2 separate regions of the Homo sapiens genome follow, and region 2 is linked to region 1. Evidence: fine-mapped expression QTL. Tissue or cell type: sigmoid colon. Region 1 holds a variant in brackets; the other region holds the start of a gene. All regions are shown on one strand. Distances are between the middles of the regions.

Evidence for each region. PIP is the estimated chance that this variant, and not a neighbour inherited with it, causes the effect.
Region 2: it holds the start of TMEM175, and the variant in region 1 is fine-mapped to the expression of TMEM175 in sigmoid colon (GTEx, PIP 0.98).

The regions. Positions count from the first base shown.
Region 1 is chr4:1,589,383-1,599,968 of GRCh38, reverse strand. It overlaps a transcript of FAM53A not described here. Among named protein-coding and RNA genes, the nearest start is that of FAM53A, 90 kb to the left of the region's middle. RefSeq lists enhancers at 430-1,256, 5,344-5,859. The variant C/T (reference allele first, on the strand shown) is at 4,652.
Region 2 is chr4:928,180-937,472 of GRCh38, reverse strand. TMEM175 (transmembrane protein 175) reads right to left here and starts at 5,013. Exons shown (of 11, transcript NM_032326.4): 1 at 4,933-5,013. It overlaps GAK (cyclin G associated kinase), which reads left to right and starts at 5,157. Exons shown (of 28, transcript NM_005255.4): 1 at 5,157-5,430. The coding sequence starts at 5,286. RefSeq lists an enhancer at 4,572-4,891 and a silencer at 5,052-5,371.

The DNA.
Region 1 (10,586 bases):
GAAGGGAGAGGGAGAGGAGGAGGGGGAGGAGAGGAAATAGGAGGGGGAGGGGCGGCAGTACCCCAAGGGACCGCCACAGCGCCATGCAGCCCACACCCTCTGCCCTGCCGTTTTCTTTCCTGGGAGCCAACACTCAGCGCCACTGGCCCCACTGGGACTCGGAGTGCCTGTGCAGGTGTCTGGGGTGAGTATGCGTGTGGCTGGCAGGTGGCGGGGTGTGTGGTGTCTGTGCACGTGTGTTTGACTAGTGTGGGTATGTATGTGTGTGTTGTGAGGGGGCGCAGCCTCCCAGAGGGCCAAGCGGGGTGGGCTGGGCTGGGCCAAGGCCCGCCTAGGCTCTTGCAGAGGTAGGGGAGGTGCTCTGGTCCCCCGGGCTGAGGGCAGTCCCCACCCTTGAAAATTGTGCTATTTGCACAATTCTTTCTCATGCATTCCACCTGTGCTGACGAGGCCGCACGCCTCCCCAGCCTCCTGTCCAGTGCTGCTCCCGTGGCTGTGGGGCCTGGGGCCACTCATTTGGCCTCTGTGCCTTGTCTCCTTGTCTGCGAAACACTCGAGATGTCCCTCAGGTCCAGGTGCCATGCCCTGCCCCCGATGGGCTCCTGGCTGGCCCGAGTCCCACTGTGCTTCTGCTCCGGCCAAGTACCGGGCGGAGTTGTTGGAGCTGACGGCCCTGAGCTCCGGCACCCTGGATCCCCTGGCCTCGGTGAAGTACCAGGCAGGGTTGGAGCTGACGGCCCTGCGCTCCGGCACCCTGGATCCCCTGGCCTCGGCGAAGTCCCGGGCGGGGTTGGAGCCGACGGCCCTGAGCTCCAGCACCCTGGATCCCCTGGCCTCGGTGAAGTACCAGGCGGGGTTGGAGCCGACGGCCCTGCGCTCCGGCACCCTGGATCCCCTGGCCTCGGTGACGAAGGGTCTGCCAGGCCAGGAGGGAAGCGGGCCGGGGAAGGAACGCGGTGCTGCACCCGCACGCACCCCTGCGCACGCTACAGAGAGGAGAGAGAAAGATAACTGATGGGTAGTATTTTAAGGCATATTAACCCAATTACAAGTATATTTTTACAATCATGACTCCAACATTTATCACGCAGCATTTATTAGCCCCGGAGCTGGGCTGTGCCACGTGAAGGCTGTGAAACAGCAGCATTTCATTACGCTCCGCCCGCCGGGCTCCATCCTGCGGCTCTTAAACCGCATGATTTTATCAAAATCTTCGGAAATTGAAGCAATCACTAAAAGGTGTCGGGGAATTAAAATGTCCTGTCTCAGTGTAAGAGATACACTTCTCGTAACATATATCAGTGGCTCTTTTTTTTTAAAGACACATTACTATGCAGAGAAAAGGCATCAAACCGGGAGGGGGTGCGTTCCAGAAGGATCGGACGACAGCAATTCTTCACGCTTAAAAATCGTCTCCTGAGGGACGTGCTGCCTGCAGAACTGCTTCTGTGGCCGCTCTGGGAGTGCCAACGTGGCTGTCTTACCCACTTCCTTTCTCAGCCTCATTGTTTGGGGATTGCGGCCCCCGTCAGCCTCTGCTTTGAGGAAACAGATCCAGGCAGCCCCTCAACCAGAGTGGGGGTCCTGGCTCCCGTCCGTGCCCCTCCGGGCCAAGGGCCTGGCGGAAGGCGCAGCGTTTGGAGTTGGCCCCACGTTTTTCCCGCACACTCCATGCAGCTGCGGCTGCAGGCCTCGGATCAGAGCAGGCAGTCCGCTGTGCCTTCCCCACCGCCCAGGGCCTCGGTGGAGCTGTTTTTCTCCCAGAATCTTCTCCCACTTACCTCCCCACAGCCGGAGAAGGGGCAAGAAGGGGCTGGGCCCCTAGGGGCTCACAAAGGGGGTACGTAGGCAGCAGCAGTGGCCTTCGGCTGGGCCTGGGGATGCAGCTTGGCTCTCAAAGGGCACCTTCCAGGTGTTTCTTTTAGAACAGTCCTGGGGTTCCCATGAGGTCATTCCGCCAAGGTCCTCAGTTCTTTTTGGAGCCTCGCTCTGTTGCCGAGGCTGGAGTGCAGTGGTGCGATCTCAGCTCACTGCAACCTCTGCTTCTCAGGTTCGAGCGATTCTCCTGCGTCAGCCTCCTGAGTAGCTGGGATTACAGGCGCCCGCCACCACATCCGGCGAATTTTTGTACTTTTAGTAGAGATGGCGTTTCACCATGGTGGCCAGGCAGGTCTCGAACTCCTGACCTCATGTGATCTGCCTGCTTAGGCCTCCCAAAGTTCTGAGATTACAGGCGTGAGCCACCGCGCCCGGCTGGTCCTCAGTTCTTTGGGACGATGGGCTGTACCACCCAGGTGCTCCCTGCAGCCACATAGGGCTGGATGGGGCAGGAGGCACTGTTGGGGGGCCCCGGAGGGTTTGACTTCCCCTCTCAGGAACTTGGGACTGTTTAGGGACCCACACTGTGCTGGGTCAGTTCTGAGGGAGGGGCTGGGGGTCTGGAGCAGGCAGGGGGCACACCTGTGTGGGGTGTGTGGCTCTCCAGGGCCCTGGGCCCAGCAGCATGGTTCCTGGGCTCCTGCCTGGCCCCGAGGAAGAACCTGGTCCCCCAGTGCGTGTTTGCTGTGGGGTCTGAGTTGGGGGTAGACGTGGGGGCACGGGGCAGTCCTCAGGGCTCCCCTCACCTCAAGCTGTGTCGGGCCGGTGGGGTTCTGCTGGGTTTGAGTTTAGGATGGGCAGTGGTGGGGGGAGGAGCAGAGGCAGGGGAGTGAGGGGACCCTCGAGGGGGACCCCTGATAGAGAGCCAGGCGGCTGAGGGCCCTGCCGATGTCTGGCTGGAGCCCAGGGGTGCCCGGTGTCTGTGTTCTCCAGATGCCCTTGGTGTCTGGGGAGCCCAGGCCTGTGGGAAGAGGCTGGAGTCCCAGTGAGGGAAAAGAAGGCCCTGCCCCACTGGATCCAGAGATGCCAGAGGAGCTGCCTGTCCCCTCTCGGAGCCTTGGTGGCCTGGACGTTGAAGTAGGGGAGATGCGATGCTGGAGGGAGGCCCCGAGGAGGGTGCGGAGCTGCCCAGGGCGAGCCCCCGGGGGCCTTTCCCACCTGCCAGGGGCTGTCTCCCTCTCCTCCGTTTCTCCCTCTGTCTCTCTCTCCCACTGTCTCTGTCTCTCCCCACTCCGTCTCTGTCTCTTCCCCATCTCTGTCTCTCCCCTTGTCTCTGTCTCTCCCCTTGTCTCTGTCTCTGTCTCTCTCTCTCTCTGTCTTTCCCCCTTTTAAAGGAAGTTTCATGGGAGAAGTACAGTTGGGAATCTGGAAGCAACCCGCATGTACCGTGTGGCACGGCCTCGGTGGAGGCCACAGCAGCCCGCGGCGGGCGGACACCGTGTGAGTGAAAGAGCCAGTCCCTGAAGGTGCCCTTCCATCTGGTCCCTGTAGAGGGCATGCCTGCAGTGACACAGCTGTGGAAATGGAGGGCAGATGAGTGGTGTCCGGTTCGGGTGGTGTGGTGGGCAGTGGAGGGCCAGGAGGGTCCTTGAGGTGGGAACAGCGCCCACATCTGGACGGTGTAGCCAGCGTTGGGCGGTGACACTGGCCACAGCTTGGCAAGAGGGTACCTTTGGGGAAGGTGGGTGGGGGCGCACTGGATCTCTTTGTGTTGTTTCTCATAACTGTATGTGAAACTACAATTTTCTCAAAGTAAAAAGTTTAATTGAAAACAATACGTGGCTATAATAAAAAATCCGGACAGCATGGAATTATGTAGAGGGGACCTGCCAGCCCAGCGTCCCTCAGCCTGGCCCTGTGCTGCGAGGATGTGAGTCAGAACTCAGCCCCCACCAGACCATGCATGGTCCCTGGAGGTGGCCTGGTGATTCTGTGGGTGTGGCCTGGTAGTGGCCTTGGAGCCAACCCTCCCCTCGTCCCTCTGTCTCTGTGTGCACTTTTTGCCCAGCGCAGGAGCAGGGACCCTCATGGGCCACATCAGCAGGGAGAGGCAGCAGAGGCTGGACGGCCACTCTTGTGGCCCCACGTCTCAAGATGGTGGTGCTGGTCCCCATTGAGCTCAGCCGTGCCTTGGGCAGACAGTGACCAGGGGTCACACCCGGTCCTGTGGACCATCACTGAGCACCTGCACCACAGAGAGGATCAGACTGGCCTCTGGGGTGGGACTCTCCTCTGACAGCACAAGAGAGGAAGAGACAAAGGGCCCCAGTAGACCACAGATGGGCCTACCTGAGGCCTCTCAACACATCAGAGCTGGTGCCTGGACTGAGTTGCAATTCTGCTGCTTCCTCTCTGCCCGGCTGGACTGGGGACCGGGCCTGGCTCCTGGGAGCTGTGTGCTGGCGCTTCCCGCGGTGCTGGGTAAGCTCCAAGTGTCCTGCCAGGCTTTGCAGTGTCAGGAGGGGTCTGTGCACAGGACAAGGGCTGCTTGGTGCTGTTTTTTTGTCTGCCGTCTGTGCCACGATTTATACCAGTGGTGACTTCCCAGGGCTCCCACCAACCCCAGCCCCACCCCACCAGCCACGTAGTGTCAGTGGTTTCTGATGTGCCCAGCACCACCAAGCCTAGGGGTGGGGCAGCCCTGCTGTCCCCGGCCTGTGGTGGACCCCCAGCCTCTGCATGCCCCTTCTCAGCCTTCAATAGACAAAAGCCTGGGAGGGTCAGCAGGGCGCCAGGATGTGGGGAGCCTGTCCTGGCCACTGTCCAATGGCCA[C/T]GCAGGACCATGGCAGCGTCTGTACAAAGAGGAGCCGGTGGGGCTCCTGCTGCCCGCCTTCTTGCACCCCTGCTGCTGGGGCCCTGTGGCCGTCCAGAGCCTGGAGGTGGGCGGGGGTCCCTGTGGGCAGAGGGACCAGTTGTGCGTTTCTGTCCTTTCAGTGGCTGCGGCTTCCCTGTCCTCTGACTCCTGTGGGAGCTGGAATCTGTGCCTCCCCGTCCCTGGCATGCTGGCACTGGCTGGGTCCCATGGTGCTTTGGTTGGTCCCCGATGAGCAAGCTGTGTCTCCATCCTGTGGGGGGATGGGGTGGCAGATGGCCCAGTGGGCCTGTGCACGGCTTTGCCTGGGGCCGGCAGTCTGCAGAAGGAACAGACTTCCCCCTCCACACCCGAGAGCTCCTTCCTGGCGGCAATGTATATTATGAAGGCAATGTGAACTTTGTAAAACTTAAGCACCTTACACATTTTTTTTTAAGAGACAGGGTCTTGCTCTGTTGCCCAGGCTGAAGTGCAGTGGCACCATCACGGCTCACTGCAGCCTCCAACTCCTACACTCAAGTGATCCTCCTGTCTCAGCCTCCTGAGTAGCTGGGACTACATGTGTGGAGCCACCACACCCGGCTAACTTTTGCATTTTTGCAGAAATGGAGTCTCCCTATGTTGCCCAGGCTGTTCTCCAACTCCCAACCCCAAGCAATCTGCCTGCCTTGGTCTCCCAAAGTGCTGGGATTACAGGCGTAAGCCACTGCACCTGGCCTAAAACTATTAAAGCATAGATCCACATTACCAGATTTTTGAAAAGAAGATAGAGAAGAGAACCCAAAATAATCATGATGACAGTAATACCCCCACCGTGGGGGGTGCCTTTTGTGCCTGCTTGTATACCCCGGGGGGCAGTGCCTCTATCATCCTTTTTTCATGAGGGGAAACTGAGGCTGGGGATTGTTAGATCCTGCCCAGGGTCCCCCCACAAGGAGAAGGGGACACAGGCTGGGGCAGGTGCTGGGTCCCTCCCCTTCTTCCACCTCCAGGAAGTCTTCCAGGCTGAGCCCTGACCTGGTGACCTGTGAATCGGTTTATCTGTCCGTCCTGCCTCCTGCTATGTGGGGCCGCTGGAGGCGGGGCCGCTGCTGGCTCCCAAGGGAAGGAGGGAATCTGCCCAGAAGCGGCTCAGGGACCTCGCAGAGGAGGCTCCGGCTTGGCTGCCCTGCTGGCAGCCTGGGGGGACCTGGGGCCCGCGGCGCCCCTCCCTGCAGCGGTCTCTGCTCACCCTTGGCCCCGGGAGCTGCCCCCAGCGGCCCCTGCTCTCCCTCGGGTCGGCCTTCCGCAACGCCGCCCTGCCCTAGACCGTATTTCGTGCTTGTTGGTGTCACAGACTTTGCCACGCAGGGTCAAGAGTTACCCTGCCCCGTCCTTTGTGTTCTAAATTTAATTGTTGCACTCCTTTTCTCCCTTAAAAAGATCAGTAAAAACTGTTAATTTGATCAATACTTAATTTTTTCACCCGAGCGCGCGTCTTCTGCTGGCCCGTGATAAGCTGGCGGCAGGGCAGAGGGACAAGTGAATTGTCAGGAATTTCTCCAGTCTCCCGCGGCCACTCCACCACTTAGAGCCGTGTAATTTATACCCCGGCAGCCGCTCTGCAATTACCCTGTCTATTGCTGTCGACAGTATCGCGCTATCTTTTAAATAGATCCGGCCTGGCTGGTCCAGACGAGCGTCCAGGACAAATGACGCCATCCCTCATCCCGCAAGCCCTAAAGAGATAAGTCCCTTAAAGAGGGGACCATTTATCAGCTGATACAAGCTGGATACTTACAAGCCCACTTCTTTGTTTGGGCTCTTTTCAGATTTCCAAAGCTATTGATCTACCGAGGGGGGAGCCGGGTTGGGGCGTGGGGCGCGGGGCGACTGTCAGGGGCGGCCCTGGGCCTGAGCTCACCCTACTCGGAGGGGCCCTGGCGTGGCTCCGGGCCGCGGTCCAGCCTCCCCTGGCCTGGGCTGAGCGCACCTGCCGCGCCGGCTTCCCTCCTGCGGGCGCGCGGGGACGTGGGTGCCTCTGCTGACTCCAAACGTCTGGGTTGCAGACCAGGCGCCTGGGCCAAGCCCTGGACCCGCGAGGCCGGTGTCGGGAAGGCTCAGATGCCCCCGGCCCCCGACCCAGGACCTGGTGCCTCTCTGGCCGCCACCGGCTCCCGCACAGGACGCCTGTGTCCCCGCCGGCGGAGAAAGCCCGACCCTCTGCTGCGCCCGCTCGTGCTCCGCATGGGCCCTCGGCCCTGGGCACTGGGGAGAAAGTGACCCAGCTGGGCTGGGATGGGGCAGCAGCTGCCCGAATCAGGGCCGGTTCCGTTGCCATAGGCTAGCCGGGCAGGGTGTGAGCGGCCCCGGGCCCCGCAGCCAGGACCTCGGCCATGTGCCCTGCAGACGCCCCTCCTGCGGGGCCCGTGTCTGGGGGGCTCCAGGCGTGTGCGGGTGGGACGTGGTGCCCGGCGCCCACTCAGGCGCCCCCGCGGCCGCCTCTCCTCCCTGTGGGCAGCGATGGCAGGGGCTGCCTGGGCTCTGCGGCGAACTCTGTTCCCTCCTGCTCCTTCCACCCAGGCCTCAATCACCTCCTTCCTTCCATGCTGTGAAGATCCTGCCCTCCCATCCCCAGGCTTCCAGGCTCTCCAGTGTCACGGCCCTGGGCTCACCCTGGCTTGGCCCAGGAGAGGGGCTGGGCAGGGGGTGCAGAACCGCGTGTCGGGGGCCCCTGGGTGTGGCCGGCGCCCGGGAGCCCTAGGGCCCCTCTCCTGCCCCTGTTTTCCCCCAGGAAGGACCGCAGCGCCCCCCAGCCTCCGGGATCCTGCCCCCTGGCCCCCTCGGCCTTGCTCAGGAATCCTGGGCTTGGGCCCTGCCCCTCCGGGACTTTGGGGGTAATCTGTGTGGTCTCGGCCTCGCGCCCTCCAGGCCTGCGCGCTCTGACGCTGCCTCCCGGAGCCCTCGCTCCGCCCACGGAGACTGATGGGGCCGCGTGTGGACGTGGCTGGTACGCGCCGTGCACAGCCGGTCATCTGTTTGGTCTTAATTTAGAAAACCTTCACGAGATTATTACGTGGCATTTTTTTTTCCCTGGGGTGTTTGATGGTATCAGGTGGGTTCAGAGCTCAGCCTCTCCAGTTTATCTTCCTCAGAGAGCTGCATTAACACGTAGGCACAGCGGCCCGACAAACCCCACAGAACAAATAGAAACGATCTTAGCAGCGTCTCTCTTTAAAAATAGCATCCATTTATCATCCAGCCGTATGGTGCTGGGCTCAGCCTGTGGTCTGGGGTGACCGACTGCTTTGGGCTTAAATATCCACTCTCCCGTTTCACTGTATTTAAAGTCTTCTCTTTCTACCCTGCACCCAAGAAGGAGGCCCCCAAAACTTGTGTCAGCAGCCAGAAAGGGGTGGGCAGCTGGCCTTCGGGGTGGAGCTTCCCAATTTGTAAAGGAAGGAGGAGCCCTGGAGGGTGACCTCCTGCGGCCCTCTGGGGAGTCCCTCAGCTCAGGGTCTCTGGGTTTCCTTCTGCTGCTAAGATCCCTCTCTGGGTCATGCTTTCCCTCCAGGGACTCCCAGGCCCCTGGATGGATCCCAAACTCACACCCAGAAGGAGCTGAAAGTAGGGTAGGGCCTCAGGCCAGACCATGTGCTCAGAAGGAACCAGGACCTACCTATTCCTTTGTCCACTCACAATAACATGAACTAGGGTATTTGATGTGCAGGTGGGCCTTGTGTGGGGTGTTGCAGTTGCTGTGGGAAACAAGACTGACTGCCACCCCATCCTGGCAGAGCTTACCATGCCATGGCCAACACTCTCTGTAGGAATGTCATGGGGTACATGTGCATGCGCATTCTCTCTCCTTCATTCCTGGCAAGTACAGGGGTGGCTGGCTTCTTTAGGTGCATCACAGGTCCCGGAGTGCAGAGTCCACAGTGTGTCCAGAGGGGGGCCAGCCTGCAGAAATAAACCCTAATGCAACAGTGAGTACAATAAATGTAAATGAGTTAGACTCAATGATCTGAAAGTAGAGACTCACAGGTTGAACGAAAAACAAACTGCTGCTGTATGCTCCTTAGAGAAGACACATTTTAAAGGAGAAAGGGCACAGAAAGATTGAAAATCAAGGGATGGAAAAGAGATACACCAGGCAAATATGTACACCCAAAGCAATGTGGGATAGCAATTCTAATGTCAGACAAAATAGAAATAAGGCCAAAAAATCACAAAAGACAAAGAAGAATATTAGGGACTAGTTCAAAAGAACAACAGACCAAGAACATAGAATGATTATATATATATATATATATATATATATATATATATATATATATATATGCATTAAATAATATAGTCTTAGAACATATAAAACTACAACTGAGAATATTACCAGGAGAAATATATGACTAAACTGTGTTATTTAGAATTTTCGACAAATTCCTCTTATAAAACAATAGATTAAATATACAAAAGTAAGTCTATTTAATTTGAATGGCATAATAAATTAATTGAATTACCTCTATTATCTATCAGTTTACACATCTCATGGAGAATACAGATTTCTTTTGTGCACACTTATTATTCACAAAAACAGGCCATGTGCTAGGCTACTGTATGGTCACCTTCAGAGGCAACCTACCCAAAATTTGTTTCAAATATTGGGAACGGATGGCTTCACACATACACACCAACAGGGCTTGAAATGGTTTGGATTGTTTGCATAACTGAGGTCTCTGAGGAGAGCAGGGCACGCCTCCCAAGCAGGTCAAGAATGGCTTGAGAGAGCAAGGAATGGAAAGGTTTTTATTGTGGTTCAGGGCTGGACCTGGGTGAGAGTTTTCATGTGCAGGCAGGGCCTTCTGTGGTTTGAATTCCCCACCAGCATCAAATGAGGGAGCACCCGGGCTTTCTTATCAGCTTGTCCAGATGTGGGGCACAGGAGAAAAGGGAGGGACACTTAAAAGCTGTTGGCAGCCAGACATCAAAAAATGGAGTCGGGCTGCTTATTTCAGCCACAAAAGAAAATGTGATAAATTTCAAAGAATTGGCATAATAAAGACTGTATCCTTTCACTATAATGCAATACAATAAATAAAAGAATTGTAAAAAAAAGGAAAGTCCAGATATCTGGGAAGAAAAATCATAAGTACTGAATACCCCTGGTTAAGGGAAAAATCATAAAGAAATTATACAACATTTAAAGCTCTGTGTGTCAGGAGCTGTGAGACATACCCAAAGCAGTACCTAGAGAAAAAAAATTATGATTTTGAATAAACTTATCAGAATACAAACAAAAGTCAAAAATAAATGAGCAAAGCATTTAACTCAATAGGCTAGAAAAAGAACTAAAGATATAGCTAAGGAAACAAGATGTAAATAAAGAAAAAGCAGAAATCAGTGAAATAGAAAACATTTTTAACATTAAAAAGTCAGAGAAGATTTTCAAAGTTAAAACTGGACCTTGTAAATATAATAAGACAGGCAATACTGATGACAAAGGAGAGAAGAAGCAAAGTAAATATAGAATAAAAATGGAAAATAATGGCAAAAATAATGAAGGGAAAATTATGAATGACTATACACTAATATATTCAGAAAGCCCAAATAAAACGAATACATTTCTGTAAAAATATAAAGTGCCAAATTGACACCACAGTAAACAGAAAATGTAAAAGACTAATATCCATTAGCTATTGAAAATTGAAATGAGAAAAAGAAAGAAATTGAAATGGAAAACAAATAATTCCCCACTAAAAATCTTCAAGAAAGAGAAATTATTTCTCATGCAAACTCTTCCAGAGAACAGAAAAAAAAGAAATGTCCTGCACCTCATTTTATGGGCAAGCAACACTCTTATTCCAAAATCAGAAAAGACAATTGTAAGGCCTTTCAATAAAAAAATTATAAATAA
Region 2 (9,293 bases), 660 kb after region 1:
TCCTCCCTCAGCCTCCCAAGTAGCTGGGATTACAGGCACCTACCACCATGCTGGGTAATTTTTGTATTTTGAGTAGAAATGAGGTTTCACCATGTTGGCCAGGCTGGTCTTGAACTCCTGACCTCAGGTGATCCACCTGCCTCGGCCTCCCAAAGTGCTGGGATTACAGGCATGAGCTACTGTGCCCAGCCAAGTCTGGAGTCTTCTTTAAGGGAAGATTTGTCAACTATAAATTCAATGCTTTAATAGACATAGAGCTATTTAGGTTATCTATTCCCTTCTTAAAAAATTTACATTTTTAATTTTTATAGGTATATAGTAGGTGTATATATTCATGGGGTACATGTTCTGATACAAGCATGCAATGTGTAATAATCATATCATGAAGAATGGGGTATCCATCCCCTCAAAAAAAAAAGATGGTTAGATAACACAAAGTATGTTGCAATGCCTTAATTGTATGCATGTCAGGGCCTCTTTCATCCTTTCATACAACACAATTTCTCTTTTTTTTTTTGAGACAGAGTCCTACTGTGTCGCTAGACTGGAGTGCCGTGGCTCAATCTCGGCTCACTGCAACCTCCGACTCTCTGGTTCAAGCGATTCTCCTGCCTCAGCCTCCCAAGTAGCTGGGATTTCAGGCACATGCCACCATGCGCAGCTAATTTTTGTATCTTTTTTAGTAGAGATGGGGTTTCACCATGTTGGCCAGGATGGTCTTGATCTCCTGACCTTGTGATCCACCTGCCTTGGCCTCCCAAAGTGCTGGGATTACAGGCGTGAGCCACCGCGCCGGGCCCAACACAATTTCTTCTTAAATGAGCTTAAGTGGTTTGTGCTTTCCAGGAATTTGTTCGTTTAGTGTAAGCTGCTGAATTTGTTGGCCTAAAGTCCTTAATAATAGTCCCCGATTATCCTTTCCGTAGTGATGTCATTTCTCATTCCTGATATTGGTAATTTGTGTCTTGCCTTTTTCTTGTTCAATCTGGCCAGAGATTTTTCAATTTTATTAATCTCAAAGAATCAGCTTTTGGTTTCCCTGATTTTCTCTATTGCTTTTGTTATCTATTTTTTTGAATTCCACTCTGATACTTATTATCTGCCTTCTTATATTCACTTTGGGTTTCATTTCCTCTTACTTTTCTAGTTTCCTTTTTTTTTTTTTTGTGACAGAGTCTCAGCTCACTGCAATCTCCACCTCCCGGGTTCAAGCAATTCTCTTGCCTCAGGCTCCCAAGTAGCCGGAACTACAGGCGTGCACAGGCATGCACTGCTACACCCAGCTAATTTTTGTATTTTTAGTAGAGATGGGGTTTCACCATGTTGGCCAGGGTGGTCTTAAACTTCCGACCTCAAGTGATCTGCCCACCTCAGCCTGCCAAAGTGAGCTACCGTGCCCAGCCAACTTTTCTAGTTTCATAAGGTGATTGCTGAGGTCACTGATTTGAGACTTAACATTTAATACTGTTTTAGCTGCATCCCACCAGTTTTAAATGCTGCATTTTCATTTTCATTCTGTTCAAAATACTTTCTAATTTCCTTTTTGATTTCTTCTTTGACCCATGAGTTATTTAAAAGTGAGTTGAAAAAATATACAAAAAACAAAAGTGAGTTATTCAGTTTCCAAATATTGAAAGGATTTTCCAATCTGTTACTGATTTCTACTTTAATATTCAATATCATTCTGGTCAGATAACATACTTGTTTAATAGAACAGAATATGATCAGGCTTAATGTTTTAATGCACTTGAAAAATTGTGTATTCTGCTGTTATTGTGGGGAGTGTTCCATAAACATTCATTAGGTCAAGTTGGCTGACAGTCATGTTCAAGTCGCCTATATCCTCAGTGATTTTCTGGGTATCTATCCTATCGTTTATTGAGAAAGAATATTCTCCAACTACAATTGTGATTTTTCTCTCTCCTTGCAGCTATTAGTTTATGCTTTGTGTATTTTAGAGCTTTGTTATTAGGTGCATAAATGTTTAGGATTATCAAGTCTTTTCGATGAATTCACCCCTTCTTCATTACAAAATGATCCTCTTAATCTCTTGCAATACTCTTTGCTATGAAATTTAGGAAATCAGTTATAGGGATTAAGACTATAACTTCAGTTTTGGATATATACATGTTTATACATGTAGCAGTATCTAAGAACAAACATCTGAGAGTTCAGATGAGATATGGAGATAGATATTTGGGTTAAGATGGTGTTACTATAGCATCTACTTCAATGCCAATAAATAAAGGTGCTCCAGAAATATTCGTAAGATAAGTAGTCTGACTCTGGTTTCCAAAGTGATTACAAGGTTTAGAAATGTCCAGCTGATCCCAGGTCATGCCAGTATAAGTTCATGGCCTCCAGATGAGTGCTTAAACGCTCTCATGCTTTCCAGTGAGTTATTTGCTAGGTTTCTCATAATAGCTATTTTAGATCTTTTTGACACTGCTTAAATCTTGGGTTTCCTACTTCCCCTCTCACTTTCAGTTGATGTTTTTCTTTCCTCATTCACAATGAAAACAGAAGTCATTAGAGAATTCCTTCACCTTCATTCCAATAAATACATAAGGTCACCTACAACTGCAGCCCATTTTTCTTCCTGAGTGTTTTTCCTATGTCCAAAGCAAATATCTCTACCTATGCTCTTGATGTCATTCCCCTCCTATGTTCTAAGAGATAGAAGATATCTCATTAAGATAGAATTATCTTATTATTCCTCTTTTTTCTGTACCAGCAAACCTTCTCTCCCTTCCATCCGCTTTAGGCTGCTCAAGAATCTCTCATCTTAAAACATCTCAATACTACATCACCCTTGTAGCTCCCTGGAGCTAAGGGTGCCGAATTTGTTGGCCTGAAGTTGTTCATATTCTCTTCCACAGACAAACATTTTGAGTTATCTCCACTTGCCATCTCTACCTCATCATCTCTTCATCCCTCTACGGTAATATGTAGCTTCCACCTCATTACTCCAATGAAGCTATTCTTGGTGAGGTCACCAATGATCCCTTGTGAATAAATCCAACACATATCTTCCATTTCTTTTTCTACTTGACTTTTAAGTGGCATTCGACACTCTTAGCTGCACTCTCTGCCCCGAACATCCTCGTTCCTTGGCTCTGTTACGACACTCTCTTGGTTTTCTTCCTCCTTCACTGACTGCTCTTTCTCCACAAACTGTCTATTCTCTGAAGATTCTAACCTCTTTATGTCTAGTACACCATCTCTGTTGGTCCTCTCTTCAGCTCCTAGAGCCAACTGCCACCTCTATGCTGAGGATGCCCAGATATCTGTCTCTAGCAGGGATTCTTTCCTGAGCTCTCTATCCTTCTATTCCACAGTCGACCAGACAAACGCACTGGCTGGAAAAGCCATGACTTGCGTTGAATTGCAGTTGTATCACTTGTTGGCCCTGGCCGAATAATGGCATTGTTGAGCATATTTTCTCATCCCAAAATAAAGGGGGTTAATTATACTGTGCTTTCTTCACAAAGATGTTTTCACTACAATGAACTATTACAGAAAAGGGTGTTGTAAGCAATAAATCAGTGCCTAAACTAAGCTATTGCTACTGTTATTTTTGTTATATATATTTTTAAAGATGTCATTTGGCTTCATGCAATACTTCATTCCATAACATAGATAAGTGTTCCAACGAGCTGAGGCTATTATCTTTTAATGATAAAGATAACAGATGTTAGCTTCTGGGACGGCTAAGAGGCTGATGTGAGCTTTAGAATCCATTTTTGAGTTGGAGAACAAATAACTCTGTTGAAGGGGTTGCAACCTTAAATGACTATAGGAACCAGGCAGGTAACATACATGAGCCCATCTGGTCAGGCAAATGACTGTGTCTTACCTCAAGGGACCACTCTAGGTAATTGGTAACACACATCATTTTGGGTCCAATATTGACAGGTTTGATTTTTCCACAGAAGCTGGAAAACTAGGTTTTTAACATTTAGGCCTTTCAATTATTATTATTATTATTATTTATTTTTTGAGGCGGAGTCTCAGGCTAGGGTACAGTGGCGCCCGCCTCCCGGGTTCAAGCGATTCTCCTGCCTCAGCCTCCCGAGTAGCTGGGATTACAGGCACCCGCCACCACGCTCGGCTAATTTTTGTATTTTTAGTAGAGACGGGGTTTCACCATGTTGACCAGGCTGGTCTGGAACTCCTGACCTCAGGTGATCCGCCTGCCTCGGCCTCCCAAAGCACTGGGATTACAGGTGTAAGCCACCGCGCCTGGCATCAGTCTTTAAATGATAGCAACTAATTCACCTCCTGCTACCCACTCCCAACCCCCAAATACTGTGTGGGCCAAAAACTAAAAATGCATTGTCTGTGAGCCATTTCCTTATTATCCTATAAGGAAAGTCACCATTTCATCTCCAAATAGTTGGGCATTACGAACCCTTCCAAGTGGTTCATGAGGATTTGCTTTTGCCTTGGAAAATGTCAGGGTGAGAACGAACCTTGAGGGTCACAGGGCAGTCTCTGCAGTGTTGTGGTTGCCCAGGACGAAGGTTTTTCTAGCCCACGGCTCCCACTACTGGTCACTGCCCCAGGCCAGACCCTGGCCCTCTCCTCGGAAGACAGAGCAATGCAGCAGCGTTTCCCCTGCAAACTGCCTGCCTGGCTGCTGGGAGGGGGCTGCCAACCTTACTCACTAAGCGTCACAGGAAACTCCGACCTCCATGAGACGAAAACCAAGTATTTACTGAAAGCTTAACGCACGCTAACTCCTTGCTCCTTAGCCAACTGAGAGAAAAATTCGCGAACCCATTCGCAAACGCGGCGCTAACAGCAAACGGGAGGCTGACTCCACCCAGAGGATGGCGAAGCGCTTAAACCGGAGACACCTGAGAAGGAGCCTCCCACAAAACAGACCATGTGGGGAACGGTACCGGGAGCTGGACTGGGGCGCTGAACTACCTGGGCGGGAATCGCCTCGGCGACTGTTCCGCGCGCCTCCGCTTGAGTCAGCCCGGCCGGGAGCTTGACAGCCGGAAGTTCATCGCAAGCCCGGCGACGCCGCGCACGCGCTGTCTCCGTCAGACCTCCGCGCCTGCGCGCGCAGCCAGGAAGTGAGGCCGCGGCGGAGGGGACGGGGCTAGGCCGGGTCGCCGCCTGACGCGACGCGTCCTCACGGGCGCCTACGTCACGGCGTCGAGGCGGAAGATGGTGCACCTCCGGGCCGGCGGTTGCTGAGCTGACCCGGACGGCGAGGGAGCGGGAGCCCGAGCCCGACCACTCCGGCTGCCGCGGGGTGCGGCGCAGCCACCGCCATGTCGCTGCTGCAGTCGGCGCTCGACTTCTTGGCGGGTCCAGGCTCCCTGGGCGGTGCTTCCGGCCGCGACCAGAGTGACTTCGTGGGGCAGACGGTGGAACTGGGCGAGCTGCGGCTGCGGGTGCGGCGGGTCCTGGCCGAAGGTGAGGCCCCGGGTCGGCAGCGCGGGTGCGGCCGCGGAGTGTTGTCTCCGGGACGCTGGGGGCAGCGTCAGCCCGGAGTGGAAGGGCGTGGGTTAGGGCTGGGGAGGGTCCCAGCGGGATCGTGGGTCAGGGTCGGCCAGGGGAGGGTCTCTGCCGAGGGCGTGGGTCAGGGCCAGGCGAAGGTCATAGCGCGGGCGTAGGTGAGTGCCTGCTGGCGGTGATTGCGGAGGGCGAGGCTGGGACCGGGTCGGGGTACTTTCTTGTCATAAGAGTAGGGTCAAGTCGGAGCAAGGCCTGGGGCTTGGGGAACCCCCTCAGGGTGGGTGGGGGAAGATGTTACGGTGAGGTGGGGGATGGTGGCAGGCAGGGAGCTTGGGTGGGGACCCACAGCGGAGACTGAGGGACGGTGCCTAGAAGGCCGACAGCTGGAGTCAGGAGGTGAGCGGTGCAGGAGGTGGGTTTAAGCCTTGGCCTTTTGCCGGACATCTGGGGTTATTGAGCAGGCAGGGACAGGACTGGACTTTGGAGGTTAGGGCTGGTTCTTCTACAGTCCAGGGAACTTGAGAGTTGGTGGGTGCACACGTGTTGCAGGTAGTTGCGGTTGTAGCCTGGGGGGTGGGGGGGTTGGCCGAGGGTAGACTGGGCTGTGTCTCGTGATCCCCCTTCGTCTTTCAACACCTCAGTGTTTCTCTTCCCGGTGAACATCTACTCGTGTGATTCCGTGTGTAGTACAGGAAGCAGAGCCAGTGGTTGTGACCTATATAGAACTTGCAGAGTGGACAGGTCACTCGGCTTAAGTCCTCTTGAGTCAGTCTTGAGTCAGTTTTGTCTCTGCATGCTATTTCTAGCTCCCTGGATGTCCTCTCCGTTCACACGGAATCGATCACCAGTGCCAGTGGGTCCCATTCTCTCTTGTGGATTTTCCTTACATTTTTTGTCCAGTGGTGCCTGGAGGTGTGTCATATTTCACTGGCTGTGAAGTTTATGGGCTAAACACAGTTGACTTGGGTGCGGAAGCGTAACTCTATTCTGCTGTATTGGCACAGGGAGAGGGAGTGAAGCGACACAAAAGCCCTCACCCTCACCAGCTCCCTGGTACCTCTCAGGGCTGGAGGGTTAGCCTGTCCAGGTGCCTGCTCTGTGACCAGACAGGAGACTATCCCAGAATTCTGATTATCACAAAAGGCCTGCGGAGACATTTTGACTGTAGCATTATCACACACTTTGTCTCCATTGTGGTCAAAACCAAACAGATTTTGGGTATGATTTGGTCAGAAAGTCTAAGCTCTTCTTTCAGAAGTGGGGGCTGAAGTGTGATATTCTTTCACATCAGTTGGAAGATTTCTCTCAGATCAAATCATTTATTCTGAAAATACTAGGTGGTTATCTTCATTCTTTAAGAAGTTTATTGTGGACAGGACTTGCTTTCTGGAACTTCAGACTTGTGCTCAAGGGGTGGAGAGACAGAGGCAGCACAGGGACAGATCCTTAGGGGTGGTACAGACAGTGTGAGCTTTGGGAAGGGGCCAAGCAGAAGATGGCACGGATCTTGGTGGGAGGGATGGAGAATGCACCCTCACTGGGGCCCGGAGAGGAAGATTCGTATAAAGAAAGAAGCTTGTGGGTCACTTAGCACCCAGGAAGAAGAACAAGGAAATGTGGGCAGCTGCTGAGGTTGTGCAAAAGAACTTGTTTCCCTTTGCTATCTAGGCAAGTCAGGAGATAAAAATAACCAATGCAATTAGGAGCTGTAGATTTCCTCCTTGTAAACTTAATAGGTGGCCTGCAGCCTCCTAAGTACTTTGAAGCCTCTTTGAACTGAAACAGAGTGTGAAAGCTGAATTAAGTATTTTATATAAACATACTTAATTAAGTTTTGTCTGAACAGCAACCTTAGAACATAGGCTATGGGAGTTTAGGCTGTCTTGTGTAAACATGGTGATGGCTGGTAATCTGAACCCTTGAGTACAGATGTTTACACTTCCAGAATTTTTCAGGTTTCAGAATGGTCATTGCAGCATATAACCTGTATATCGTGGGATACTCCCAGAAGACTTGGGAAAGTATTCTGTAATTGAATACATTAATATTTCTGTAATTAAATGAATAAATATTCTCACTGTGGGATAATTAAAGTCTGTAATTAACCCCATATCAGTTCATGTCAGGTTTTATCCCAAATGAGGTTATTATGATAGACCAGGATTTGCTGTCAAGTGAGTTAGGAAAAAATGGTTTTCATAGCTTTTAGGAATTTGGACTTGTGGTGTGAATGGGTTTTTAGGTAGAACTGTGGAACCAGATAGCTTTCTAATTTCTTCAAATTTGTTCTGTCATCTTCCTTTTTTTTTTTTTAATTTAAGAGACGAGGTCTTGCTGTTACTCAGGATGGATTTGAACTGGGCTCTGGATCTTCCTGCCTCGGCCTCCCGAGTAGCTGGGCTTACAGGCATGTGCTGCTGCACCTAGCTAGTCTTCACTTTTTTAAAAGGCAGATTATCAGGAGCACCAACCATGTCAGAGATGCCCAGGGCAGGTGTATGCTGTGTGTTCTTTGTTTTGGGTTCTGCGTGCCGTTGCTTCTGAAGTGGAGCCTGTGGTGCCCTGACTGCAGGGAAATCCACCTTCCCTGTGTGGCTGACTTGAACTCGGGGTTACTGCTAGTGAGATAAATTGAGGCAGAAAAGAAAACGATGCCGCACAGCCGTCGTATGGTTTAAGCGTAACCCGCCTCGTGCGTTTGGTTGGGTGTTGTATGTAATTTGAGCCAGCCCGCAGCCCTTGTGTGCCATGCGCAGTGTTAGCTGAGTGGCTGGGCCCGCTCAGGAGCCTTGGGGGTCAAGCTCTGGCCTAAGGAATGGGGAGGGCACAGCCTACTCCCACCCCCAGGGCCACTTGTGTGTGGTCCTGACTCTCCACCCTTCTTCCTCCTTGACATGGCTTTTGGAGGCTTCCTCCCTTCACTTACTTAGAATGTTCTGGGCCGGGCGCAGTGGCTCACGCCTGTGATCCCAGCACTTTGGGAGGCCGAGGCGGGTGGATTACCTGAGATCGGGAGTTCGAGATCAGCCTGGGCAACACGGGGAAACCCGTCTCTACTAAAAATACAAAATTAGCCGGGTGTGGTGACACATGCCTGTAGTCCCAGCTACTCAGGAGGCTGAGGCAGGAGAATCGCTTGAACCTGGGAGGTGGAGGATGCGGTGAGCCAAGATCACGCCATTGCACTCCAGCCTGGGCAACAAGAGTAAATCTCCGTCTCACCAAAAAAAAAAGAAAAGAAAAAAGAATGTTCTGGACTGGGTGAGGGCACTGTGAATATTTGGTACTGACTGACAGTTGCAGAATCATGTGGTACAAGCAAGACTCTTGGTTGCAAGTTTCAGAAACCCTCCCAGGTGGGCTCAGTGGCAGGAAGGCCCCATGTCTCCAAGGTGGGCTCAGTGGCAGGGGAGGCCGCATGCTGGCCCCATGTGTCCTCCGCAGGGTACACTTGAGATCATTTTCTTTTATTGAAAAGAGTCTGGCTCTGTCGCCCATGTTGAGTGCAGTGGAGCGATCACGACTCACTGCAGCCTTGAACTCCTGGGCCTACGTGATCCCCCTGGCCTAGGCCTCCCAGAGTGCTGGGACGACAGGCATGAGATAATGTGCCCAGCCTTAGACTGATCTTAAAAGTAGACCGGGCCGGGCACGACGGCTCACGCCTGTAATCCCAGCACTTTGGGAGGCCGAGGTGGGCAGATCACCCGAAGTCAGGAGTTCGAAACCAGCCTGACCAACATGGCAAAACCCCATCTCTACTGAAAATACAAAAACTAGCTGGGCATGGTGGCGCGTGCCTGTAATCCCAGCTGCTCAGG